3 separate regions of the Homo sapiens genome follow, and regions 1 and 3 are each reported to be linked to region 2. Evidence: microRNA targets listed by miRTarBase, many of them from high-throughput screens and not tested one by one. Region 2 holds a microRNA gene; each other region holds the end of a gene's coding sequence.
What was found. The annotated mature microRNA hsa-miR-937-5p reads GUGAGUCAGGGUGGGGCUGG and lies in region 2 at 1,298-1,317, shown strand. An mRNA with a match to its seed (bases 2 to 7 or 8) in the 3' UTR can be bound and repressed. Matches are read on the target gene's strand: a 7mer-m8 pairs with bases 2 to 8, a 7mer-A1 pairs with bases 2 to 7 and ends in A, and an 8mer does both.

Region 1: miRTarBase lists NECAB3 as a target of hsa-miR-937-5p. The part of its 3' UTR that is shown has no 7-base or 8-base seed match.
Region 3: the mRNA of KNSTRN is a reported target of hsa-miR-937-5p. The part of its 3' UTR that is shown has no 7-base or 8-base seed match.

Annotation. Positions count from the first base shown.
Region 1 is chr20:33,655,233-33,658,232 of GRCh38, forward strand. It overlaps NECAB3 (N-terminal EF-hand calcium binding protein 3), which reads right to left. Exons shown (of 12, transcript NM_031232.4): 11 at 2,710-2,801; 12 at 1,855-2,625. The coding sequence ends at 2,597. Among named protein-coding and RNA genes, the nearest start is that of C20orf144, 5.6 kb to the right of the region's middle. RefSeq lists an enhancer at 1,063-1,563.
Region 2 is chr8:143,811,327-143,814,326 of GRCh38, reverse strand. It overlaps MIR937 (microRNA 937), which reads left to right and starts at 1,285; the gene lies at 1,285-1,370. It overlaps SCRIB (scribble planar cell polarity protein), which reads left to right. Exons shown (of 37, transcript NM_182706.5): 2 at 209-326; 3 at 431-509; 4 at 601-690; 5 at 801-857; 6 at 953-1,016; 7 at 1,223-1,297; 8 at 1,366-1,510; 9 at 1,943-2,061; 10 at 2,982-3,000. RefSeq lists an enhancer at 1-176.
Region 3 is chr15:40,393,039-40,396,379 of GRCh38, forward strand. KNSTRN (kinetochore localized astrin (SPAG5) binding protein) reads left to right here. Exons shown (of 9, transcript NM_033286.4): 9 at 431-1,250. The coding sequence ends at 559. Among named protein-coding and RNA genes, the nearest start is that of IVD, 11 kb to the right of the region's middle.

The DNA.
Region 1 (3,000 bases), not on the chromosome of region 2:
GGACACAGCCTTTCTTATTAAAAATTGTAATAAAGAGGTGTCCACCTTCAGAACTGCACTGCAGGGCGAGGCAGGCAGGGTGCCCAGGGCACAAAAACTAAGGAGACGCCCACCACAGATAAGTCAGCCTGAGGGCTTGGGCATGTCTAAAGATGGCAGTGGGCTGGGCACAGTGGCTCATGCCTGTAATCCCGGCACTTTGGGAGGCCAAGGTGTGCAGATCACTTGGGGACAGCAGTTCAAGACCAGCCTGGCCAACATGGTGAAACCCCATCTCTACTAAAAATACAAAAAAAATTAGCCAGGTGTAGTTGTGTGTGCCTGTAATTCCAGCTACTGGGGAGGCTGAGGCAGGAGAATCGCTTGAATTCAGGAGGCAGAGGGTCAGTGAGCCAAGATCGCACCACTGCACTCCAGGCTGGGCGACAGAGCAACTCCGTCTCAAAAAATAACAATAATAAATAAAGATGGCAGAGGGAAGTTTTTTTAGTTTTGAGGATTTGTTGCTACAGTTTTTGTGGAGGACAAAAGAAGCCTTTACAACACAGGACGTAAAGCAGGGCGATGTCCTCCTCAGCTGTCTTCTCTAACAAGACACACTGCCCAGCCTGGGCAACATGGCGAAACCCCCATCTCTACAAAAATTAGCTGGGCGTGGTAGTGTGCGCCTGTAGTCCTTGGCTCACTGCAACCTCCGCCTCCTGGGCTCAAGCGATTCTCCTGCCTCAGCCTCCCAAGTAGCTGGAATTACAGGCACACACAACTACACCCGAACAAGCCTCAAGCCTGCTCAGAGCCCCATGTGGTTCAGATGGTGGCAGCACTTTCTAGGAGCTCCCAGAGATCTGGGAAGCGGGGTGGCGGGAGGACGGCCTGGCACTGGACTGGCCAGGGTGCCAGCAGGGACCTCTGTGCAGGTGGCCCAGGGAGCCAGGCTGGTGGAAGAAACTGTCTCCCACAGGGGCTGCCAGGGAGAAACCGCAGGGAAGACCCTGCCTGGAGTCCCAGATGGGAATGCCCACCCTGAACTGGTGCCATCTGAGTTGCCTTGTAGCCAGGCCTCAGCCCAGTAAGGACCTGGCAACACCAGGGCGTTCAGGAACATGGAAAGGGCACTCAACCCACCGGCCACCCCCTCACCCCGAATTAAAGCCTCCCATGGCCTCCTTGGGATGTAGCACCTCAGAGGCCCAGCCTCACCCAGCCCTCTCCCCCTGGCACCCCCAGCTCAGCCCCGCTACTGGGTCACCCTTGGTTCAACCAGGCAAGCCCTCCTTCTCCTCAGAGCCCATGTGCCGTCTCCTCTGTCTGGAAAACTGACGCCAACACTCCCAGGCCAGGTCAAATGCCATCCTGTGCTTCTGTGGTGCCAGGGGCCTCCTCTTCAGAGCAGCTGCTTAGATGTCCCTCTTGGTCACCTCCCCTCCATGCCCCCAGTAATGGAGGGGGGCAGGAGGACACCCCCAGGGGCTAGTAGGACTGACTCAGCCATTGTCCAACTGGAACCACTCTATGTGGGGTGGCAGTGACAAGTCCAGCTTGGTGAGGACAGGTCTTCCCACAGGAGCGATCTGGGCCCAGAGGAGGCTCTGTGTGGGTGAAGCCAGAACCCCTATAAAACCTGCAGAGACACGTCACCCCCTCCCTCAGGCAGGACCCAGCACCAGGGTGTGTCAGGGCCAGGGACCCTGAAGTGGGAAAACTTGCGTCAGCTCTTGTGAGCATCCACTCTGCGAGCGTGAGGGCACAAGGTGGGAACCCGGGGGCTTCCCAAGAGAGGTGCCCTGCCTGGAGCTTCTGGCCTGGGAGGCGCACAGGCCCCACAGCCCAGACCTGCGAGACAGGAGGCAACACTGGAAGGGACCACTGCCTTTATTGCCTCTGTGCTGGGGTCCCAGCCTGGGGTTCAGAGGCCTCTGGGGGCAATAGGTGACCCTGGACCCAAATTATTGCTACTTGGCCAGGTCACCTTGGGGCTTCCCATACTGCCCTGAGAATGGGTGGGATGAGGGCATGCAAACGATATGCAAATGACATGCAAACCAACCCAGAGGCCTCTGGCACATCCATGGGTGCTGGAAGAGTCAGAGCCTAGTGGCCTGGGAGGGCGACGGGGCACCCAGCTCAGGCCCAGCCTCGGAGGCAAGGTTTGAGGGTTGGGGGGTCCCTGAGCATCAGCCCTGCTTCTGCCGCTGGCTGAGGAGGAGCAGAAGCCTGGTCCCAAGACAGCAGGAAGAAAGCAGGACCCTCGCTAGGCGGCCAGATGGCCTGAGGCCCACCCAGACAGGGACGGGACCTGCCCTGGGTCGCTCAGCCAGGCAGGGACAGCAGGGACCAGAATCCAGGTCTCCTGAGCCAGGCAGAAGCCAAAGTAGCTTGGAGGCTGAAGTGACAAACAATAAAATACAGGGATAAATAAATCAATAATAAATAGAAAGCAAGCAGCCCAGTCCCTGATCCCTGGGCTGAGAGCCCTTCCACCAGGCCCAAGTCCAGGAGGAGACAAGTCCTGGTCTTTGCGCTGGGCTGGCCAGTCCAGAAGGCTCCAGAGGGAGGCAGGCAGGGTCCCGGGGCCCTCGGCGTGTGCAGGTCTGGCTCAGTTGTTATTCATTATCCACCAGGAGGCTGGGGGTCAGAGGCAGGGGGTCAGGAGCCCTCAGGAGCCCACTGCCCCTCCAGGGCCACAGTGAGTGGGGGTCCACCGCATACCTGGGAAGAACACAGTGGTGAGGGTGTCCGGGGCCCGCAGGTGGTCGATGAGGATGCGCTGGAAGGCCTTGCTGCCAGGCGACTGCTGGTGCCTGCAGAGACCCAGGCTACAGTGACCTCGCTCTCCCCACTCCCGCCCCATCCTGCTGCCAGGATCAGACCCCGGCCCTTCTCACACTGCCTCTGGAGCCTCAGTCCTCTCCCCTGTGACACGGGGAAGCTGTGTGGGTGGAATGAAGGGCACTGCACACGGTGCTTGGCATAGGCATTGTCACATACATGGTGACAAGT
Region 2 (3,000 bases):
AGAGGGAGGCAGCCACAGTGGGCGTGTGTACCGTGTGTTTCTTTCCTTTTTTTGCAAATGGGGTGTCGTGGTTAGACCCCAGGACCCGGTGTGACCTGGAGCAGACAGAGGCCTAGGGACTCTTGACTTGTGACACTCACGTGTCCAGGAGCTCTTCTCTGCTCTGCAGTGGTCTCTGCCACAGAGTCCGTGTCCTCCCTGCCCACAGCCTTTTTTCCGGCTGCTGAACTTGCGCAAGCTGGGCCTGAGCGACAACGAGATCCAGCGGTTGCCTCCCGAGGTGGCCAACTTCATGCAGCTGGTGGAGCTGGACGTGTCCCGGAACGGTGGGGAGCCTGGGCAGGGGCTGGGTGGGGTCTGGGGAGTGTCCGCTGGGGCTGCAGACGGCCTGCAGGCCATGGCATCTGTCCACTGTGACCCTCTGTGACAGATATCCCTGAGATCCCGGAGAGCATCAAGTTCTGCAAGGCTCTGGAGATCGCGGACTTCAGCGGGAACCCCCTCTCCAGGTGGGTGGCAGCCTGTGGTGGGGTCGGTAGGGGCTATGGGTCCCACAGCCCTGGACTGGTCATCCGAGGGCCTCTGCTTCCTCCCATCCAGGCTCCCTGATGGCTTCACTCAGCTGCGCAGCCTGGCTCACCTGGCCCTGAATGATGTGTCTCTGCAGGCACTGCCCGGGGACGTGGGCAAGTGAGTGCCTTCTCAGGTGGAACTAGGGTGGGGTGGGGGACCAGGATTGGCCCTGCCCCTGCTGCCACTGCTTTCCTTCCTCTTGCCCCAGCGCCTGGTCTCTCTTTCAGCCTCGCCAACCTGGTGACCCTGGAGCTCCGGGAGAACCTGCTCAAGTCCCTGCCAGCGTGAGTGTGACAGGCATTCTCCTAACAGCCAGGGCAGGGCCACAGCCCAGGGACCAGGGCTGCGTGGCCACACCTCCACCCTGCTTCCTCTGCAGGTCCCTGTCATTTCTGGTCAAGCTGGAACAGCTGGATCTGGGAGGCAACGATCTGGAAGTGCTGGTGCGTGGAGGCCTGACAGGGCAGAGACCGGAGGGCGGGCCACGGAAGCAAGGGCAAAGAAGGGGACAGCGAGCAGATCCGACAGCAAGGGGCACCTCGGGAGGGCAGGCGGGTGGGAGCTGGGTGTGGGGGCGTATAGTCTCTTGAGCACGGCGCAGCAGGAGGCTTTGCCTCATAGTCACTATTTTCTCTGTTCCTTCTTGCAGCCAGACACTCTGGGGGCTCTGCCCAATCTTCGGGAGCTGTGGCTTGACCGGAACCAGCTGTCAGCACTGCCCCCGGTGAGTCAGGGTGGGGCTGGCCCCCTGCTTCGTGCCCATCCGCGCTCTGACTCTCTGCCCACCTGCAGGAGCTCGGGAACCTGCGGCGCCTGGTGTGCCTGGACGTGTCGGAAAACCGGCTGGAGGAGCTGCCTGCTGAGCTCGGCGGGCTGGTGCTGCTCACTGACCTGCTGCTGTCCCAGAACCTGCTGCGGAGGCTGCCCGACGGCATCGGTTAGTGTGCCTGGGGGTGCCTGGGTGGGGCACACGGAGCCTGGCCCTGGGAGGAGCGTGGGGCGTCGGGGCTGTGTGTGGTGTGGAACACAGGGGAGGATCCTGAGTGTGCCCAGGCTCTGGGAGCTGTCCCTGGGGAGGGGAGGTGGGACCCTGGGGCAGCCCAGAAGGCTGAGGAGGCAGCTGGTGGTGCTGGAGGGGGCGGTGGAGTCTGTGAGGGCGGAAGGGTGGCAGTGCCACTGGGGCCTGGTGTTTTCTTGAAGGAGGTTGGGTCAGGCTTGTGGGGCAAGGTAGGTAGGGTCCTCCCGAAGTACGGCGGCGGCAGAAGGGGCTGGGGGCCTTGCTGTCTGCCTTGAGGGCGCTTCTGGCCAGGTGGGTAAGGCACGTCTGGGGACCATGCTCAGCCTTGTCCCCCTGTCTCCCCGACGCCAGGTCAGCTGAAGCAGCTATCCATCCTAAAGGTAGACCAGAATCGGCTGTGCGAGGTGACCGAGGCCATCGGGGACTGTGAGAACCTCTCTGAGCTGATCCTCACGGAGAACCTGCTGATGGTAGGGTCTGGCTTGGGAGGCAGAAAGGATGGGGCCGTCGGGGGTGCAGAACAAGGACAGGGCATCAGCCTGTGTCTGCTGCTGGGGGGTGCTGGTGGCAGCCTGACGTGGAGCCACTCAGGAAGGGCTCTTCTCTTGTCAGAGGGGGAGCATGCTGGCCGGAGGTGAGGCGGGGCAGTGAGGCCAGGGCAGGGGCCTTTGCCGTTTACCGTGAAGAATCTAGGTCTCGTGTTTATCGCTGTATGTTGTAACACTGGGGAGCGGTTACAGAAGAGGCAGGAATGGGAACTTATTTGTCTGTAGGGAAGACAGATGGAGAGCAGGCTGCTCCCCAGGGGCGTCTGCCTGCCCCTCACAAAGCAGGGCAAGCTGAGGCACCAGGCCACGGTTCGGGACGGTGGTGTTGCTATCCCCATCCCCAGGCTGGGAAACAGGAGCTAGCTGTGGGGAGGGTGTTCATGGGAGTTTCCGGGGGGGTTCCTCACTGGGGAGATGGAGAAAGGGACTCTGGGGTTCAGGGCCCTGGGAAGGGGCTGGCCCTGAGCAGGCAGGCTGGAACTGGGGGCCTGGGGAGCCCTAGGGATGACAGGGCAGACCAGTGGGGCACCAGACAGGCTCACAGGGCGCAGCCTCGCAGGTCAGTCCAGGGCACCCATGGGAGAGGGTCAGGGATGACCTGGTGGGGTGTTTTGGTGGTGGGGACTGAAGGCTGAGGGCAGTGGGCAGAGCTTGGGGAGCAGAGGGCACGAAGTGGGGTGGAGACAGCTTCTGTGGTCAGGTCCTTGTCCCGGTCTCCAGGGGCTGTGAGGGACCCTGGCTGGAGCTGGCCTGGGGTGTCTGTGCCCTCCTGCCAGGGGCTGTCATCTCCTTCCCACCCCCAGCAAGCCCCTAGCGTCCTCTGACCTCCTCTTCTTGGCCAGGCCCTGCCCCGCTCCCTGG
Region 3 (3,341 bases), not on the chromosome of region 2:
ATGTTCACATCACCAAGGCATGAGGCAATGTGTAACACAGTAGGTTGCTCAGAGTTGGGAATTGAGAACTATATGTAATCCATTCTATGGAAACTTGATAACTCAAGGAGAAGACCTGTAGTAAGCACAGATTCTTTGGTCTGGACTGTTTCAGATTGCTTGGATGAATCATGGGATATTGCACCAAATGTAGAGGATTTCATCGTTCCAGTTTAGATACAGGAGTCTAGTCCCTCTCTACTACTAGAGGGACAATTCCTAAAACCAGTGCATAGAAATAAAATCTAAAATAGAAGATACAGTCTGTTGATACTCCAGTGGTCTTCCTTAGTGGAATAGGAGCATAATGTTCTGATGTGGGAATTGTGTTTCCTGTTAGTCAAGAGTTTTGTGTATGTGTTGTTTTCTTTTGGAATGTCTTTCCATGCAGGCCTTAAAGGTAAAGCTGGAGATGAAAGAGGAAAGAGTCCGATTCCTAGAACAGCAAACCTTATGTAACAATCAAGTAAATGATTTAACAACAGCCCTTAAGGAAATGGAGCAGCTATTAGAAATGTAAGAAGAAGCAAGTGGCCAGATGGCTCCCTCTTGGGCATAAAATCTCAGAGGAAGCTACTTAGGACATCATCTTGGCCATGATCTTCTGGGACTCACCATCTCCAGAATGAAAACAATTTCTACAGTAGACTTAAGGACAGTTTATGCTGAAATGGCAATTCCTCATTTAAGCAAGTTTTCCCAACCTTCAGGTTGGTCAGCCCTCCTGAGCCTCACAGGTGGATAATTGAGGCCTACAAGAGAGGGGAGCCTAGGAGCTTGGATTGACCTTCTAGTCAACCACCTGACTTCAGCACACCATTACAATCGGGAGACTAAACCAACAACCAGAGGATCTAAAATGTCACATTCAGATTTTCAGGAAGAAAATCTTCATTACAGTGGAGCACAAATGTTCCATACAAGACATCATTGAGGAGCCATGCTGTCCCCTTCTAACCTGAAACACATTCTTTCCCATCCTGGTTGGGCTTCTGTACCTCCTTATTAATTTATGAACCTGAAGTTGCTTGAAGTGTTTTGGGCTTAATAAATGGGGTGAAAGTATAGGTAGCAGTAACACCTACATGAAACAATACACCTTGGATCTTTTAATCTAAATTACTTTTCTTTTTTAAGTCTACTTTTAAAATAAATACTTCTGTAAATATTCTGACTGTAACATTGAGGAATGAAAATAGCCTTTTAACCTAGATATGTCAGTTGATCATTATTGAACTAATTTAGTTAACAAGTCCAAGATATTCTGACTTAATCTAGAATATTTTTCTGCTACTCTTTAAGAGTCCTGTGGCTAGTCCCTCTGTCTCCCAAGAGCATTGGCTAGTCTCCTGAGGGTGTTGCCCATTTGTAGCAGTGGTTTCACCAGGTCTGTGGCCACTTGCTGCCCATGTTTTCCCTGCACTCTTTTTTTTTTTTTTTTTCTGAGACACAGTCTCACTCTGTTGCCTAGGCTGGAGTGCAGTGGCGTGATCTCGGCTCACTGCAACCTCCACCTCCCAGGTTTAAGCAGTTCTCCTGCCTCAGCCTCCCAAGTAGCTGGGACTACAGGGGCATGTCACCACGCCTTGCTAATTTTTAGTATTTTTAGTAGAGACAGGGTTTCACCATGTTAGCCAGGATGGTCTCGATCTACTGACCTCATGATCCGCCCGCCTCGACCTCCCAAAGTGCTGGGGTTACAGGTGTGAGCCACTGCACCCGGCCTTTTTTTTTTTTTTTTTTTTTGAGACAGAGTCTTGCTTACTCTATCGCCCAGCACAGTGGTGCGATCTCTGCTCACCACAACCTCCGCTGTCTGGGTTCAAGCAATTCTCCTGAGTAGCTGGGATTACAGGCACCCCACCCCCCACCACCACACCCAGCTAATTTTTGTATTTTTAGTAGAGGCGTGGTTTCACCATGTTGGCCAACTCCTGACCTTAAGTGATCCGCCCGCCTCAGCCTCCCAAAGTGCTGAGGCCAGGCATGAGCCACCACACCCTGCCATTTTTGTATTTTTAGTAGAGTCGGGTGGGGTTTTGCCCAGTTGGCCAGGCTGGCCTCTAACCCCTGACCTCAAGTAAGCCACCCACCTCAGCCTCCCAAAATGCTGGGATTACAGGCGTGAGCCACCACGCCCAGCCCTCCCTGCACTCTTAAGCATGATTATCTGCCTGCTGTTTGCTTTGCACAGCCAATCCTAGGCCTGGTCCAATAGATCCTTTAGTACATGGCCTGAAGTCCATGACAGGCCTCCCCCCGGTTTACCAAAGGCATGGCCAAATTTTTTTCTTAACCAAACTAGGCTGACTTTGGCCATCTCCTGTTCTTTCTGCACCTCCTAATTTCTTCTCCAAACCCTCCCACCCCCACCCTTCAGCATCTTTAAGGCTGCCCAGAGACACTCAGTGAAGCCAGTAACACTCCAACCTGAGCTTAAAGGGCCAAAATTGTTTGCCTTCTCATACAGACATTCACAAAGTTGGTTATGTTTCAAATATTTTGAGCCTATCCACTAAAAACTGGTCTTTGGCAAATTCTCTCAAACTGAGTTCATACCAATAAAACTGGTATGAACAGGCTGGGTGCAGTGGCTCATGCCTGTAATCCTGACACTTCGGGAGGCTGAAGTGGGTGGATCACGATGTCAGGAGTTAGAGATCAGCCTGACCATCATGATGAAACCCTGTCTCTACTAAAAATACAAAAATTAGCTGGGTGTGGTGGCACACACTTGTAGTCCCAGCTACTCGGGAGGCTGAGGCAGGAGAATCTCTTGAACCCAGAAGGCGGAGGTTGCGGTGAGCCGAGATGGCACCATTGCACTCCAGCCTGGGTGACAGAACAAGACTCTGTCTCAAAAAAGAAAAAAGTATGAATAAGTTCATACCAATAATACCTGTCTTGCTGGGTGGTTATAAAAGAGAATTATGTCCAGTACCTAACCCAGTGCCTGGCAAAGGTACTCAAATCCTGGTGGTGATATTATTAAAGTTTAAAACTTATCCTGGCAAAAGATTCCCTTCATAAATTCACCCCAAACTTCTATTCCAGTGCCCCCTTCTCCCCACCCCAAAACACAGTCGCTGATCTTACCATGCCTTTGCAGGCCTCAGTTATTCAACTTCCTTCTGACTTGGGAACTCTCAACTTTGACTCTTAAGTTCAAATTGCAACCATCTTAAAACATAAAGCCAAAACCCCACCCTTATCCCCTCCAGCTACCACATATACTATATTCACAGCCAAATATCTCAAGAAGCTATTTCCTTACCATTTTTCTTTCTCTGCCAATCTGGCTT